Regions from separate parts of the Homo sapiens genome. Here region 2 is linked to region 1. Evidence: fine-mapped expression QTL. A gene starts in region 1. The other region holds a variant in brackets. All regions are shown on one strand. Distances are between the middles of the regions. Region 1 holds the start of GRAMD1A (GRAM domain containing 1A). Region 2 overlaps LINC00904 (long intergenic non-protein coding RNA 904).

The links. PIP is the estimated chance that this variant, and not a neighbour inherited with it, causes the effect. A credible set is the group of variants that fine-mapping cannot tell apart.
Region 2: its variant is the best candidate, but not a certain one, in a credible set for the expression of GRAMD1A in whole blood (INTERVAL, PIP 0.58).

Annotation. Positions count from the first base shown.
Region 1 is chr19:34,996,916-35,005,177 of GRCh38, forward strand. GRAMD1A (GRAM domain containing 1A) reads left to right here and starts at 3,408. Exons shown (of 20, transcript NM_020895.5): 1 at 3,408-3,571. The coding sequence starts at 3,564. RefSeq lists enhancers at 793-1,468, 7,316-7,861, 7,862-8,262 and silencers at 3,243-3,622, 3,893-4,022.
Region 2 is chr19:34,895,186-34,903,588 of GRCh38, forward strand. LINC00904 (long intergenic non-protein coding RNA 904) reads right to left here. Exons shown (of 6, transcript NR_187844.1): 3 at 7,780-7,898; 4 at 3,653-3,820. Among named protein-coding and RNA genes, the nearest start is that of LINC00904, 5.8 kb to the right of the region's middle. The variant C/A (reference allele first, on the strand shown) is at 4,600.

The DNA of each region.
Region 1 (8,262 bases):
TCAGCCCTTGTTTTTTGTTTTTTGTCTTTTTCTTTTTGAGACAGCATCTCTCTGTCACCCAGGCTGAAGTGCAGTGGCATGATCTTGGCTCACTGCAACTTCCATTGCTCCCCCCTCCACCCAGCAGCTGGGACCACAGATGTGCACCACCACACCTGTCTATTTTTTTTGTATTTTTAGTAGAGACGAGGTCTGACCATGTTGCCCAGGCTGGTCTTGAACTCCTGAGCTCAGGTGATGCACCCTCCTCGGCCTCCCAAAGTGCTGGGATTGTGAGATGAGGCACCCGGCCGCAATCAGCACTTCTTTATCCAAATCAAAATAAAATAGAATTGCAAATAACACCATGCGTGAGGCCTAATGAGGGTAAGTGTGGTTTCTTACAACTTCTGTGGCATTATGTGTATTTCTAAGTGCGTGCTGGAAGCCCATGTGAAAGGTATTTCCTGCTGTAGATCACAGGCCAAAAAAACAAAAAAAAAAAAAAAAGAAGAAGAAGAAAAACAAAGAAAAAAAGAAAGTTTAAACAAAACTTCTGAAAAGAAACACTATCTCTGGTACAAGGAGACAGGAAATGGGAGGTTCAGGGCCATAGGGGGAAGAGGAAAGAACTCTACCGACCCTGAATAGAACAAGCAGCCACTGTGGTTTCTTCCAACAAGGGACACTCCATAAGCGTTAAAGTTTAGGAAGCAGAGCTTTGTGCATGGATGTGGAGAAATCGCAGAAACAATGATAATGGGGGACAGCAAGTTGCAAATGAAACAGAGGGAGCCTAATCGTGTATCTTTTTAAAAAGATACTGGATAATAGGTGATAGTGTTGGTGGATGCCTCCTGATGTAGAAAAAGGACAGAAAAGTACACAGGGTCCAGGCGTGCTGGCTCATGCCTGTAATCCCAGCACTTTGGGAGGCCGAGGCGGGCAGATTAACCTGAGATCAGGAGTTCAAGACCATCCTGACCAACACAGTGAAACCCCATCTCTACTAAAAATACAAAAATTAGCCAGGCATGGTGGCGCATGCCTGTAATCCCAGCTATTCAGGAAGTTGGGGCAAGAGAATCGCTTGAACCGAGGAGGTGGAGGCTGCAGTGAGCCAAGATCGAGCCACTGCACCACTCCAGCCTGAGCGACAGAGCAAGACCTTGTCTCAAAAAAAAAAAAAAAAAAAAGCGCAGGAAGGAAACACACCAACTGCATGGCAGGCAGAAGGCTCCTTGGGGGGCACGGGAAGGGAAAGGAGGGATGGGGAGCCAGGCCTTTGGTTGTAAGTGTAATCATTTATTTCTTTTAAAAAAAGGACCTGAAGCAAAATGGCAAAATGTCCACATCTATTCTATATAGGTACAGGGGACATAGAGGACTGTTATATTTTCTTCCTTTTTTTTTTTTTTTTTTTTTTTGAGATGGAGTCTTGCTCTGTTGTCCAGGCTGGAGCGCAGTGGTGCGATCCTGGCTCACTGCAACTTCCACCTCCCGGGTTCAAGCAATTCTCCTGCCTCAGCTTCCTGGGTAGCTGGGATTACAGGTGCAAGCCACTACACCTGGCTAATTTTTTTGTATTTTTGATAGAGATGGGGTTTCACTCTGTTGGCCAGGCTGGTCTCGAACTCCTGATAGGTGATCCACCCTCCTTGGCCTCCCAAAGTGCTGGGATTACAGGCGTGACCCAACGCGCCTGACCTGAAATAAATATTATTTAATTAAAAAACTAAAAGCATTACACTAGAAGAAACAGACCAAAGAGAAATCTAAAGAGATCAGTTGGACAGAGGAAGGTGGTGGGAGGAGGGCCTCTCTTCCATTGGCCGGTGGGAGGCAGCAAATGTCAGATGGTGGATGGGGGTTTTAGAGGTGGGGGTTAGCATGAGAGGTAGGGCACGGCGATAGGGGGGGTGCTGTCCATGCAGAGGGAATAACCAGTGCAAAGGTCTTGGGGTAGGAGGCAGGAAGGTGCCTGGTGAGTTAGAAGAACAGCGGGTAGGCTGGATGGGGGGTGTGAGCCAGGGGGAGATGAGGAGCTGAAGTCAGAGAGCTGACAGGGGCCTTGGGTGCCAAGGTGAGGACTTTGCTTTTACCTGGAGTGAGGTACAGCTGGGGCAGGGCTCTGAGCCAGGAGGGTAGTTAACTGACTCAGGTGGTCCCAGGCTCTCTCTGGCTGCAGGTGAGAACAGACAGTAGGGGCAGGGATGGGAGCAGGGAGATCAGGCAGGAGAGGATGGAGGCTGGGCCAGGGCGTGGGCAGCGGAGGAAGAAGAGTTTAGAATGGAGCGATTGATTTTATACGTGGAGCCCACAGTTTGTGACGGATTGGATGTGGTGTGAAGGAAAAGAGAGGGTCAGAAAAGACTCTGAAGTTCTGGGCCTGCCATTCATCAAAATGGAGAAGTCAGGTGGGCTTCTTTTGCAGGAGGAGGGGAAGGGTTGATGGAGAGGGTTGGGAAGGGAGTTTTTTCAAAAGAGGCGGGGACAGCGTACCCTGGAGAGCGCTGGGGAGCCACAGCCCCGGAGCTGTGAGGTGGGACTCGCATTTCTGTGTGGTTGGGCCAGGAGTCCAGGACACCACCTGACTCTGACCTCTTGCAGACGGGGCGGGGGAGGGGGGACGCAGGTTATGGCGTCAGAGCAGGATCGAATCCAACTCTGCCGCCTACCTACCAGGTGACCCCAACAAGTCACTTCCCATCTTAGAGGCCGGGCTTCTCCTTCCGTAAAAGGACTGATTTTGCCCGTTCCTGCGCTGTCCCCGGGAAAAGCCCTTACCACCGAGTTAGTGGGACTCCCAGCACTGGGGTGATGAGCGCAAGGTCTCAGCACAGATAAGAGCCAGGGAGGCTGGATTCTGACTTGGTACTTGGCCTGGCTGACCAAAACTGGGAAGTCCCTAGAAACGGAGGCACCGGACCTCCTGGGACCAGGAACCCGGGCTCAGAGACTGGGAGAGGGAAGGAGGAGGCGGCCAACCGGCCCCACCCCTTCCCGCCAGCTTCAGGCCCCCTCCCCCATACATACACCTCGGTTTCCCAGCATCTCCAGTCCTCCCCCACCTTCGCCCCGGCTCTCAGGTTCCTCCCTGGGAGGTCCAGGAGCTTCTGGCCAGGGGCATAGTAGTTGCTAGGGACCCTTTTCTAGGTACTAGGGGAGGGGGCTCCCCAACCTGCGGGCAGGCAGCTGCCTCCACGATGTTTGGTTTTAATAAAGTCTCTTTGTTTCCTTCTCTGTCTCTCTGCCCCTCTGCTTTCCCTTCTCTGTCCAGTCCCTCTCTCCCCGGCTTCTCCCTCCTTCTAGGCCTCTGCGGCCCCTCCCCGCCTTCCCTCCCGGGCTGGGGGCGGCGCCGTGACGCGGCGGGGCGGGGGAAGGAAGGGGGTGTCGCTGACGCCGCGGCGGCCTCCGGCGGCTCCGGCCTTTTGTGCGGGCGGTTGGGTCGGGTGGGGGCGGCGGCCGCGGAAGGCCAGGCCGGTGCCCTGCGGGGACGCCCAGCGCAGCCCAGCCCCGCGCAGCCCAGCCCTGCCCTGCCCTGCCCTGCCCTGCGCCCGGGGCGCGCCCACCGCGCCGCATCCATGTTCGAGTAAGGACCGGGCGACTAGAGCTCAGGGACCGGGCGCGCGGGGGAGGCCACCGGAGGGAGGGGGCGCCGCGGGCTTGGGGAGGGGGCGGAGCGGCCGCTGCAGAGGTCGGGGGCCTCTGCACATGGCTCTGGCCGGGGCGATCGGGGTGGGGGCGGGGCAGGGGGCCCCCGGGCGAGGGGTGCAGCTGGGGAGTGGGGCGCGGACGCAGGGCAGGGCCCGGGGTCTGGGTCGCCACTGCCGGCCCGCGACGCACTGGGTTGCGGGGTTTGGCTGGGGGCCCGCGGGTTCATCTGGCGGGGAGGGCCCTCAGGCCTGGCAACCCCCTGCCTGGTAAGCCAGGGGTGAGCGCGAGGCCGAACTGGGGCTCCGGCCTGGGATGGAGACAGGATCGGGACCAGCCCAGGCCCACAGGCCGCGGAGCCCTGGGCGCGCCGGGAGTAGGCAGCCCCCTCCTGCCTGGGCCCCCTCCCACCGTCCTTGGCTGTTGCGGGTCTCGGGGCTGCCGGGGGTGGGGGCTTCCTGCGTCTCTCCAGGACCGCGTGCTTGAGGTCATGGAGGGCGGGGGGTCCTGTGTGCTCGGAATTGACTTCTTACTCCCCTTCCGGTCCAGGTGGGCGCATGTGCTTCCGACTGTGAATTGTCTTGCAAGTGTGTGTACGTGTGTCTGGGGCTGCTAGCCTGCAGCAGCTTTGGGCCTCTGATAGAGTTCCTGCGTGTAACTTAACCACTAATTCTGACCGCGGCTCTGTGTGTCACTGTAAGTTACCTGTGTGTGTCTGGGGCTCCAAATCTGTGGCTGTGAGCAGCTGGTTGTGTGCGTGTTGTGTCTCATTCCATCTGTAGCTCCCTGTGCAAATATAAATTACCCCTGTGTGTCTGAGTGTGACGTTGGAGTGTTTGTACATGTGTCTGGAGTTACCGTGTGTAGCAGCTCTGATCCTTCTTGGGCTGTGTGTGTTTTACCATTAATTCTATCTGTAGCTCCAAGCGTTGCTGTAAGTTACCAGTGTGCGTCCCATTGTGACTTAGTGGTGTGTGTACAAGTGTGCCTGGGGCTCTGGGTTCTACCATGACCCTCTGTGCCTGCATATGCCTGTAATTTAGCTCTGAAACGCTCTTCTTTTTTTTTTTTTCTTTTGAAATAGAGTCTGGCTCTGTCGCCCAGGCTAGAGTGCAGTGGCACGATCTCGGCCCACTGCAACCTCCTCCTGCTGGGTTCAAGCAATTCTCCTGCCTCAGCCTCCTGAGTAGCTGGGATTACAGGCGTGTGCCACCACGCCTGGCTAAGTTTTGTATTTTTAGTAGAGATGGGGTTTCACCATGTTGGCCAGGCTGATCTCGAACTCCTGACCTCAGGTGATCCACCCACCTCGGCCTCCCAAAGTGCTGGGATTACAGGCTTAAGCCATCGCGCCTGGCTTGAAACTCTCATTTAGCTCTGTGTGCCAATGTAAGTTACATTTGTGACATTGTTGTGTGTCTGGGGCTCTGTGAGTGTGGCTGTAACTTAATTTGATTCCATCTTTGTGTGAACATTCCCTTGTGTATTCCTTTGTGACAGTATTGAGTGGTGCCTAGGCCTCTCTGTGTACAGCTGAGACCCTCTGTGGTTTTGTGTGTGTGTGAACAGTGTGAGACCCCTTGTGGCTCTCTGTAGGCTTGGAACCCTCCCTTCTAAGACCCTGGGAGTACCCAGGGCACTTTGGAGGCAATAATGATAACTGACGTTGTCCACCTGTTACAGTTAGTATAGCATGTGCCACGCATTATTCCACTACCTGGCCACTGTGTCCTCGAGATCCACGCCCTGCTCGGCTGCATTATTCCCAAGTCCTGCTTGACTGTGAGCATCAGGGCTCTCCACCAGCTACAGCCACTGACACCTCCACCCCTTGCCACTTTACTTTTTCTTTTCCTTTTTCTCTTTCTTTTAGACGCAGTCTCGCTCTGTCGCCCAGGCTGGACTGCAGTGGCACGATCTCGGCTCACTGCAACCTCTGCCTCCTGGGTTCAAGCGATTCTTCTGCCTCAGCCTCCCTAGTAGCTGGGATTACAGGTGCGTGCCACCACACCTGGCTAATTTTTGTATTTTTAGTAGAGATGGGGTTTCACCATGTTGGCCAGGCTGGTCTCAAACTCCTAACCTCAGGTGATCCACCCGCCTCGGCCTCCCAAAGTGCTGGGATTACAGGCATCAGCCACTGCGCCCAGCCCCTTGCCACTTTAGAAGTAGCCTTTTCTCTGTCTTCCCTGCCAGATGGTGAGCCCAGTGCGGGCACGGGAACAACTCAGTGGGGATGTGTTGGCTGACCGTGGGACCTGATTTACCTGGGACTATGTATGTGTCACCTGGGGTCTTTTGGGACTGGTCTTTCACTGTATGGCTGTCTTTGGCTCTTTGCTGAGACTTCCTCGTGGCTATGTGTGTGAATATAATTTATCCGGGACTTTCTGTGGGTTGCTGTATGTTTCTGTGACCCTCTGCAGCTCTGTGTCTGTGTGCACACATGCATGTGTCTGGATAACTTTTCTGGGAAATTGCCATGTGACTGTAGCAGACTAGCAATGCTGCAGGTGTGTGTGTGTGTGTGTGTGTGTGTGTGTGTAATTACTCTGTGGCTCTCTGTAGCATACCTATGATGCTGTTGCTCTGTGCGTGTGTGTGTGTGTGTGTGTGTGTGTGTGTGTGTGCATATGAGAGAGAGAGAGAGGAAAGAGACTCCTTGCAATTGTAGGGAAATGCAGTTTACCCCTGACACCTACTGTGTGACAATCATTGAGTTTCCCTTTTATGCACACCTGTGGATGCATCCGCCCTTTTCTGACCAGAGGCTGCTCTGGGTCCACTGGGGCCTAGGAAGTTGGAGGTCAGGTGTCTGCGGAAGCAAAACAACATCCCTTCCGAGTCTCCTCGCCCCTATAACAGTCCCCCAGGCTCCTCCCTTCACTCTGCCTTCAGCTATCCTGGTTGGGCAGCCGCAGGGTCCGCCCTTGAGTACTTCCTCTTTGCCCAGCCCTGGAGCAAAAACTGGGGGCGTGGTCCCTGCCCTGTCTGTGTGCCTTGAGCCTCTCTTCAGGATTCCGGCCCCCAGGCCCTGCCCCTAGATCTGTGGCTGCGGGAAAGTAGGGCAGGTCTGTGTTTCAGGCTAGAGGGCTGAGAAAAGCAGGCAGGGGAGGATGTGGTCCTGCTGCTTAGGAGTCTCTCCCTGCTCACCAGTGCTGTCTGGGTGAAGCCAAACTCCTGACTAGGGTCACCAGGCCTGTGCACCTCCGCTACTCCCTCAGCCCCACTGGCCACCTCACTCACACTCAGACCTGCCAGGCTCAGTCCTGTCCCTGAGCTTGATGTTCTCCACCTGGAGTCTTCTCCCAGCCTTTGCCACATGTGTTCTTTGTCCTCAGGTGAACAAGTGGGCTTTGTTCAGGAAGGCTTTTGCTGACTGTTACTAAAGAAATTGGTTGGGCACAGTGGCTCATGCCTGTAATCCCAGCACTTTGGGAGGCCAAGGTGGGAGGATCACTTGAGGTCAGGAGTTTGAGACCAGCCTGGGCAACATAGCAAGACCCCATCACTACAAAAAAACTTTAAAAATCAGCTAGGCATGGTGGTGTGAGACTGTAGTCCCAGCTATCAGGGAAGCTAAGGCTGGAGGATCGCTTGAGCCCAAGAGTTCGGGCCTGGAGTGACCTGGGAGGCTGAGGATTGAGAATTCCTTGAGCCCAGGAGTTCGGAGCTGCCGTTAACCATGATTTTGCCACTGTACTGCAGCCTGGGTGACAGAGTGTGACCGTGTCTCTAAAAAAAATTTAAAAAGCATCTCTGCCCCCCTAGTTGTCCCATCCCTTATCTCTGTGGTCCTCAAACTTGAATGTGCGTCGGAATCTCTGGCCCCACCCCAGTTCTGATTCAGAAGGTTGGGAGTGGGTCCTGGACTCTGCCTTTTGAACACTTTCCAAGTCCTGCCTGCTGCTCTCTGGGGCTCATACTGAGCAGCATTGCTTTATGGCGTTCACCAGTGTCTGAGGTCGCCATCCCTGCTCACTTGTTTTCTTACTGACGGTCTATGTTTCCCTGTTTCAGCGTCAGGTCCTTGCAGGCAGGGGCTTGTATGGGCTTTGCTCACTTCCTTGTGGCGGGTGCAGGGTATTTAGAGGTGAAAGGCTGGAGTTGAGGGTCAGTCATGGAGGCGCCTAACATCAGGCGTAGTGCTTGTGAGGTCCCTGTCAGGGTCAGCAGAGCGTCATGGGCAGTGGTGCACTGGGCTGGCAGCCGCGCTGTACACTCCATCTTAGTCCGCCAGTCCCTGTGGGAGGGAAAGCAGCGTAGTTAAACCAGGTGCCCTCCAGGTACTGGGCTTTGTGGATCTCACCTCACCTCCATCTCTGTGCAACCCTAGGAGGTGGGCACTAATTCCCATCATACCCAAGAGGAAACTGAGGCACAGGAGGGTTCAGACACTAGCTCAGGGTCACACAGAAAGGACGCGGTGGCACTTGACTGGAAGGTCCTTGGACTGTGGGGCCCACACTCCAGGCTGCTGCCCTGGAGACCTGCAGGGTCCAAGGAGTCGTGCACCTGCTGGAACCCAAGTTCTATGGGGGGCGGGGAAGGAGGGCCGATCACCCAGGCCATCCCCAACAGTATGTGCTCACGGAGCACCTCCTGTACGCCAGGCCCTGCTCTAGGTGA
Region 2 (8,403 bases), 100 kb before region 1:
GAAGTGAAATAAATAAAAGGCATCCAAATTAGAAAGAAAGATGTAGTAAAATTGTCCATGTTTGCAGATGACATGATCGTACATATAGAGAATTCTAAAGAATCCATAAGAAACCTGAGAACTCAGCCTGGGCGTGGTAGCTCACGCCTGTAATTCCAGCACTTTGGAAGGCCGAGGTGGGCAGACGATGGGGTCAGGAGTTTGAGACCATCCTGGCCAACATGGTGAAACTGTCTCTACTAAAAATACAAAAATTAGCTGGGTGTGGTGGCAGGCGCCTGTAATCCCAGCTACTCGGGAGGCTGAGGCAGGAGAATCGTTTGAACCCGGGAGGAGGCAGAGGTTGCAGTGAGCCGAGATTGTGCCATTGCACTCCAGCCTGGGAGACAGGGCAAGACTCTGTCTCAAAACAAAACAGGCTGGGCACGGCTCACCCCTGTAATCCCAGCACTTTGGGAGGCCGAGGCGGGCAGATCACAAGGTCAAAAGATCGAGACCATCCTGGCCAACATGGTGAAATCCTGTCTCTACTAAAAGTACAAAAAAATTAGCTGGGCATGGTGGTGTATGCCTGTAGTCCCAGCTACTCAGGAGGCTGAGGCAGGAGAATCGCTTGAACCTAGGAGGGGGAGGTTGCAGTGAGTGGAGATCGTGCCACTGCACCCTAGCCTGGGCGACAGAGTGAGGCTCCATCTCAAAAAAAAAAAAAAAAAAAAATACTGTTCAAAAAAGGCAGAATTCAAAAAATGAAAAGGTAAACTATAACAAGAAAAAATATTTGCAAAATATGTGTCTAACAAAGGACTGCTACAACTCAATAATAAAATATCAGTCCATTCGATAAAAAATTGGCAAACATTTAGCTATACTGACCAAGATAAAAGGAGAAAAGATTCAAATTACCAAAATCAGAAATGAAAGAGGAAACATTACTATCAACATTATAGAAATTAAAAGAACTATAAAGGAATACTATGAACAATTTTATACCTAGAAATAATATAATTTAGGTGAAATGAACAAATCCCTAGAATCACAGAAACTATGAAAGCTAACTTGAGAAGAAATAGGATAATCTAATAGGCATACAACAAGTGAGGAGTAATTAATTCATAATCAAAAAACCACCCACAAAAAATTCCAGGTCCAGGCCAGGAGGAGTGGTTCACCCCTGTAATCCCAGCACTGTGGGAGGCCAAGCCACCCAGATCACTTGAGGTCAGGAGTTCAAGACCAACCTGGCCAGCATGGTGAAACCCATCTCTACTAAAAATCCAAAAACAAAAAAATTAGCCAGGTGTGGTGGTGCATGCCTGTAGTCCCAGCTACTCAGGAGGCTGAGGCAGGAGAATTGCTTGAACCCAGGATGTGGAGGCTGCAGTGATCCAAGATCACTCCACTGCACTGCACTCCGGCCTGGGCAACAGAGCAAGACTCCATCTGAAAAAAAAAAAAAAATTCCAGGTCCAGATGGCTCTACTGCTGAATTTTGCTAAACATTTAACAAAGAATTAATACCAATTCTTTGTGAACTGTTCATTTTATGGACAGTTAACTCATTTTATGAAGCCAGTATTACCTTGATACCAAAACAAGACAAAGACATCATAAGAAGAGTAAAGTACAGGCCAATATGATTCTTATGAATATGGATGCAAAACTCTCAGCAGAATACTAGTAAACAAAACCCAGCAATATATAAAAAGAATGTATGCTAGCAATGCAAGGTTGGTTTAACATCCAAAAATAAACTATTGTAATACATAATATCAGTAGAACAAAAAACAAATCATATGGTCATTTCAACACATGCAGAAGAAACATATGACAAAATTCAACATCTTTTCATAATAATAATTTTTTAAATTATTTTTATTTTTTAATATAGAGATGGGGTTTTGCCATGTTGCCCAGGCTGTTCTCAAACTGCTGAACTCAAGCAATCTGCTGGCCTTGGCCTTCCAAAATGCTAGGATTGCAGGTGTGAGCCACCATGCCTGGCCATAATAATAATTTTTTAAAAACTCAACAAAGTAGTATAAAAATGAACTTCCTCAACCTGATAAGAGCAAGTACAAAAAACCCACGGCAAACATCATAATGATTAAATTTGGATGCTTTCCCTCTAAGTTTACAAACAAGATTATAGGCTGGGCATAGTGGCTCATGTCTGTAATCCTACCACTTTGGGAGGTTGAGGCAGCCAGATCGCTTGAGCCCAGGAGTTCAAGACCAGCCTAGGTAACATGGCAAAACCCTGTCTCTACAAAAATTACAAAAAAATTAGCCAGGCATGGTGGTGGGCACCTGTAGTCCCAACTACTTGGGAGGCTGAGGTGGGAGGATCACCTGAACCCAGGAGGTCAAGGCTGTGGTAAGCTGTAATCGTGCCACTGCATTCCAGCCTGGGTGACAAAGTGAGACTCTGTCTCAAAAAAACAAACAAACAAAACAAAACAAAAAAACAAGATTATAATGTCTACTCTCATCACTTTTATTTATTATTGTACTTGAGTCTTTAGCTAGAGAAATTTGCAGATTAGAGTTATTTTGTGGGGAATGTCCAAAAGAATCCAATGAAAAATCTATTAGAACTAATAAACTAGTTCAGCAGTATTATAAGATATAAATTAATATACAAAAATCAATTGTATTTCTATACACTTGCAATGAATCATCCAAAACTAAAATTAAGTAAACAATTTCATTTACAGTAACATCATAAAGAGTAAAACATTTACGAATAAATTTAACAAAAACATTTTCAACATATACTCTGAAAACTACAAAACATTGTTTAAAGAGAGTCAAAAATATCTACAGAATAGGAAAAAGAATGCACATTCACGAATAAGAAGGCTTGATATTGTTTAAGATGACAATATTCCCCAAACTGATCTACAGATTCAAAGCAGTCTCTAGCAGAATCCCAGCTGACCACTTTGTAGAAAGTGATAAGGTGATTGTAAAATTCATATGGAATTGCAAGGAATCCTAAGTAGCCAAACATTTTGAAAAAGAAAAACAGCCGGGCGCAGTGGCTCACGCCTGTAATTCTAGCACTTTGGGAGGCCAAGGCGGGCAGATCACCTGAGGTAAGGAGTTCGAGACCAGCCTGACCAACATGGTGAAATCCCGTCTCTACTAAAAATACAAAAACTAGGCCAGGTATGGTGGCTCGTGCCTGTAATCCCAGCACTTTGGGAGGCCAAGGCGGGCGGATCACAAGATCAAGAGATCGAGACCATCCTGGCTAACATGGTGAAACCCCGTCTCTATTAAAAATATAAAAATTAGGCAGGCGTGGTGGCACATGCCTATAATCCCAGCTACTCGAGAGACTGAGGCAGGAGAATTGCCTGAACCAGGGAGTCGGAGGTTGCAGTGAGCCAAGATCATGCCACTGCACTCCAGCCTGGTGACAGAGTGAGACTCCATCTCAAATAAAAATAAAAAATAAAAAAGAAGAAGAAAGAAAGCAAGAAAGAAAGAAAGAAGGAAGGAAGGAAGGAAGGAAGGAAGGAAAGAAGGAAGGAAGGAAGGAGAAGGAAAGAAAGAAAGAGAAAAGAAAGAAAGAAAGAAAGAAAGAAAGAAAGAAAGAAAGAAAGAAAGAAAGAAAGAGAAAAAACAAAGTAGGAGAACTCACACTTACTGATTTCAAAACTTACTGCAATGGCAATGGCCAGGCATGGTGGCTCATGCCTGTAATCCCAGCGCTTTGGGAGGCCAAGGTGGGAGCATTGCTTGAAGCTGGGAGGTCGAGGCTGCAGTGAGCCATGCTCATATCACTGCACTCCAGCCTGGATGACACAGCAAGACCCTGTCTCAAAAACAACAAAAACAAAACAAAAGAAAACAAGAGTTATTGCAATGCAATAGTAATCAAGACTGTGTGGTATTGGCACAAGGATAGACATATAGATCAATAAAATAGAATTGTCTACAATTGCATGAAATAAACCCATAAATCTTGTTTGATTTTTTAATTATTTCAATCATTTTGTTACATTTCTCTGATAAATTTCTGAATTGCTTTTCGGTATTATCTTGGAAATCACTGTGTTGCCTTAAAATTGCTGTTTTGAATTCCTGATCATAGAGTTTGCCTATTGTCATCTTGCTAGGATTGGTCACTGGCTCCTTACTTTGTCCGTTTGGGGAGGTCATGGTTCCCTGTCTGCTGTTGTTTCTTATGGATCTACATCTATGTCTTTGCATTGAAGGATGTGTTAGTTATTCCAGCTTTCTCTGTCTGGTTTGTTTTTGTTTTTCTTAGATATGTTTGCTTAGAGATTCTTTGTAGTTTATCTGTTGAGTATCTTCTTCACTAGGTCACTCTCTCCTTTATGGTGCTAGGTGGCACCTTAAGCCCAGGTGTGTCTTTGCTCTAGTGAACATTTTGAGCTTTGCCCATCCTGAATGAGGGAGGTCCGAAAGGGGCTACCCTGGCAGGGTGGGAAGGCTGACTAGGGGTTTCTGCCCAGGAGACCCTCTCATTTGAGTTCTGGGATATTGCTGGTGATTATCTTTGTGCTGGATATTTGTTTCTGTTTCTGTGGTGAGAGTGAAGCCAGCTTGCTTCTACTCTACCATTTTGGA[C/A]CTAGTACAAGTACAAAACCCATATATCTTTCGTCAACTGATTTTTTAACAAAGGTGCTAAGACCATTCAATGGGGGAAAAGTAATCTTTCAACAAATAGTGCTGGGGCAACTGGATAGTAACATGCAACAGAATAAAGTTGGACCATTGCCTTGCTCCATATACAAAAATTAACTCAAGGTGAATTGACTACATAAATTAAGAGTTAAAACTATAAAACTCTTAGAAGAAAACATATAGAAAAAGCTTCATGACATTGATTTTGGGAATGGTTTCTTAGATGTGGCAGCAAATAACAAGCAAAAGATAAACTAGATAAATGTTTTGCCACATCAAAATGAATAACTTTTGTGCTTCAAAAGATAGCATCAAGAAATTGAAAGTAAAACCCATAGAATGGGAAAAAATATTTGCAAATCATATACGTGGTAAGAGGCTTGTACTCCTAATGTATAACTCTTACAACTCAATAATAAAAGATAAAAACCTATTTAAAAATAAGCAAAGGATACGAATAGACATTTCTCCAAAGAAGACATAAAAATGGTCAATTTGCAAACAAAAAGATGGTTAGAAACATTAGTCATTAGAGAAATGCAAGTCAAAACCACAATGATGTGCCATTTCATACCCACTAGGATGGCTAGAATCAAAAAGTCAGATAACAAAAAGTGTTGGCAAAAACCTGGGGAAATTGGAACCTGGAACCTCAAACACTGTTGGTGGGAATGTTGAACGGTGTAGCCACTTTGGAAAACAATCTGTCAGTTTCTCAAACTATCAAAAAGAGTTACTGTATTACCTAGTAATTCTACTTCAAAGCATGTACCCAAGATAAATGAAAGCAACCCATGCCCACACAAAAACTTGTATATGAGTGTTTGCAGCATTATTCATAATGGCTAAAAGGTAGAAACAATCCAAATGCCCAGGTGATTAATGGGTAAACAAAAGCGGTACATCCATATAATAGAATGTTATTTGGTCATAAAAACACATATTATTTAGCCATAAAAACACCCATGCTACAACATGGATGAATCTTGAAAACATTATGCCAAGTGAAAAAAGCCAGACACAAAAGACCATATATCATACAGTTCCATTTATATGAAATGTCCAGAACAGGGGATCCATAGAAACAGAAAGCAGATCAGTGGCTTCCAAGGGTTGAAGGATATAGGCTCGTAGCTGAAAAATAGAGGGTTTTCTTGAGATGATAAAAGGTTCTAAAATGGACTCTGGTAATGGTTGTACATATCTATAAATATACTACAAAACACTGAATTATACACTTTGAATGAGTAAATTATATGAATATGTGAACTATATCTCAATAAAGTGTAAAAACAAAACAAAAATTACCAATATAATGAATAAAAATGAGGCATGAATGCAGATCTGAAAGACTATTAAAAGTACAAAAAGGAACTAAAAATATCTTTCCAAAAAGAAAACTGCAGGTCTGAATGATTTTAATGGTTAATTCTATCAAACATATAAGAAAGATGTTTTACCAGCATTAAACATACTCTTTCAGAGAATAAAGAAAGCAATTTTTCCTAACTCATTCTGTGTAACTGACATTACCCTAATATAAAAACCTAGCAAGAAAGGGACACAATAGATTAATAAACCTCATGAACATAGACATAAAATTCTTTTTTTTTTTTCTTCTCGTTCTGTCACCCAGGCTGAAGTGCAGTGGCACAATCTCGGCTCACTGCAACCTCTGCCTGGGAGGTTCAAGCGATTCTCCTGTCTCAGCCTCCCGAGTAGCTGGAACTACAGGCATGCACCACCACGCCCGGTTAATTTTTGTATTTTTAGTAGAGACAGTGTTTCACCACGTTGGTCAGGCTGGTCTCAAACTCCTGACCTCAGGTGATCCACCCGCCTCAGCCTCCCAAAGTGCTGGGATTACAGGCATGAGCCACCGCGCCCTGCTGACATAAAATTCTTTCACAACATCTCTGGGAATTAAATTCAACCAAATAGAAAAGAATGACCTAGCATGACCAAGTAGGGTTTGTCTCAGATATGTAAGGTTGGTCTAACACTCAAAATTTAAAATGTAATTCACCATATTAAGAGAACAAACAAAAAGTCATATGATTATCTCAGCTTTGGACAAAGTAATTGAAAAAAATTTTAATTCTGGATATCAATCCCTTCTCAAATATATGATTTACAAGTATTTTTTCCAATTGCCTGGGTTGTCTTTTCACTCTGTTAGATAGTGTCTTTTGATGCACAAAACTTTTTAACATGTATTTTTTTGTGGCCTGGCATATTTGTTTTTGTAGTTATGGCAAGAGTTCTGAGATTAATTTTAATACACCTTTGACTCCAGACACAATAGTTCACAAGCAATCATTACTTAATTTATAAAAACATCTTTTCTATGACAACATGGGTTTCAAGTAATAGTTTTATTTTTCTTTCCAACTTTTATTTTAGGTTTAGGGGAGTACATATGCAGATTTGTGACATGGGTTGAAAAAATTTAACACCTCTTTGAAAAAATTTCTCAGTATAGAAAGAATTGGAGGGAACAGCCTTTACATGATAAAGCACATCTATAAAAGCCTTAAGTTAATAGCACACTGAGCACTTTCCACCCCCCGATCAGGAGTTGGAAAAGGTTATCTATTGTCTCCACTTGTATTAAACATTTTACTGGAGATCACAGTAACTGTAAAAGGTAAGAAAAATAAAATCATACAGATTAAAAAGAATATGCATAGAAAACATAATTGTATATGTAGAAAACACTACCCGATATACAAAGAAACTACAAGAGATAAGAAAGGAATTTACTGAGGTGCCATATAAAAAAGCAATTATTTTTGCTGTATCCTACTACATACCAATAGACAGATAGATAGACGTAGATATATATGTGCATGTATATATACACATATATGTGAGTATGTGCATATATATACATGCATATATATATATATAAATGTCTATCTATATGTACACACACACATATACACAAAATGCATACCATGATAGTGGACTGGAAAAAGTTAAGTCATCCACTTAAGATGACATTTAAGAAAGGTAAGTCATCCATTTCAACCAGGACCCTGAAAGTTGTCCATGAAATTATTACCAGAGATATTGGTGTCCATGGGGCATAGGCTTTTAAGCCAGGATAGATCCTGCACCCACCTGATGTCATCTCATGTCCTTGCACCCAGGAGGAGATGCCACACACAACTGTGTAGGTAGCTGCAAAGCTCAGTAAGAAAAGAAATGCCCAGTTTTGCTGTGCTGACAATTGTTGGTCTCTGCAAACATAGAAGGTAAGAAAGAGAAATAAAAGGCATGCAGGTGGAAAGAGAAGTAAAACTGACTTTATTCATACATGATGCATGGAAAATACATGTAGAAAACCCAAAGGAATCTGCAAAAAAAAAAAATCTACCAAAAATAAACAATGAATTTAGCAAGATCCCAATAATATAAGGTGTGTGTGTATATATGTATGTGTGTATACAAGTACTATATATACATATATATTTAATGCATTTTCTGTGTTCTACCAATGAACTATTTGAAAATAACATTTGCAAATCCCATAACATACTTAGGGATAAATTAGCAAAAGCTGAGTAAGACCTATACACAGAAAACTACAAAAGAGTAGCTGCAAACTTTCTCTGTAAAGGGTCAGGGAGTAAATAATATAGGTTTTATAGGTCACGTATGATCTCTGTCACATATTCTCTGGAATTTTCTGTTGTTTTTAAAGACCTTTTAAAGACGTTAACATCATTCTTAGCTAACCGGCCT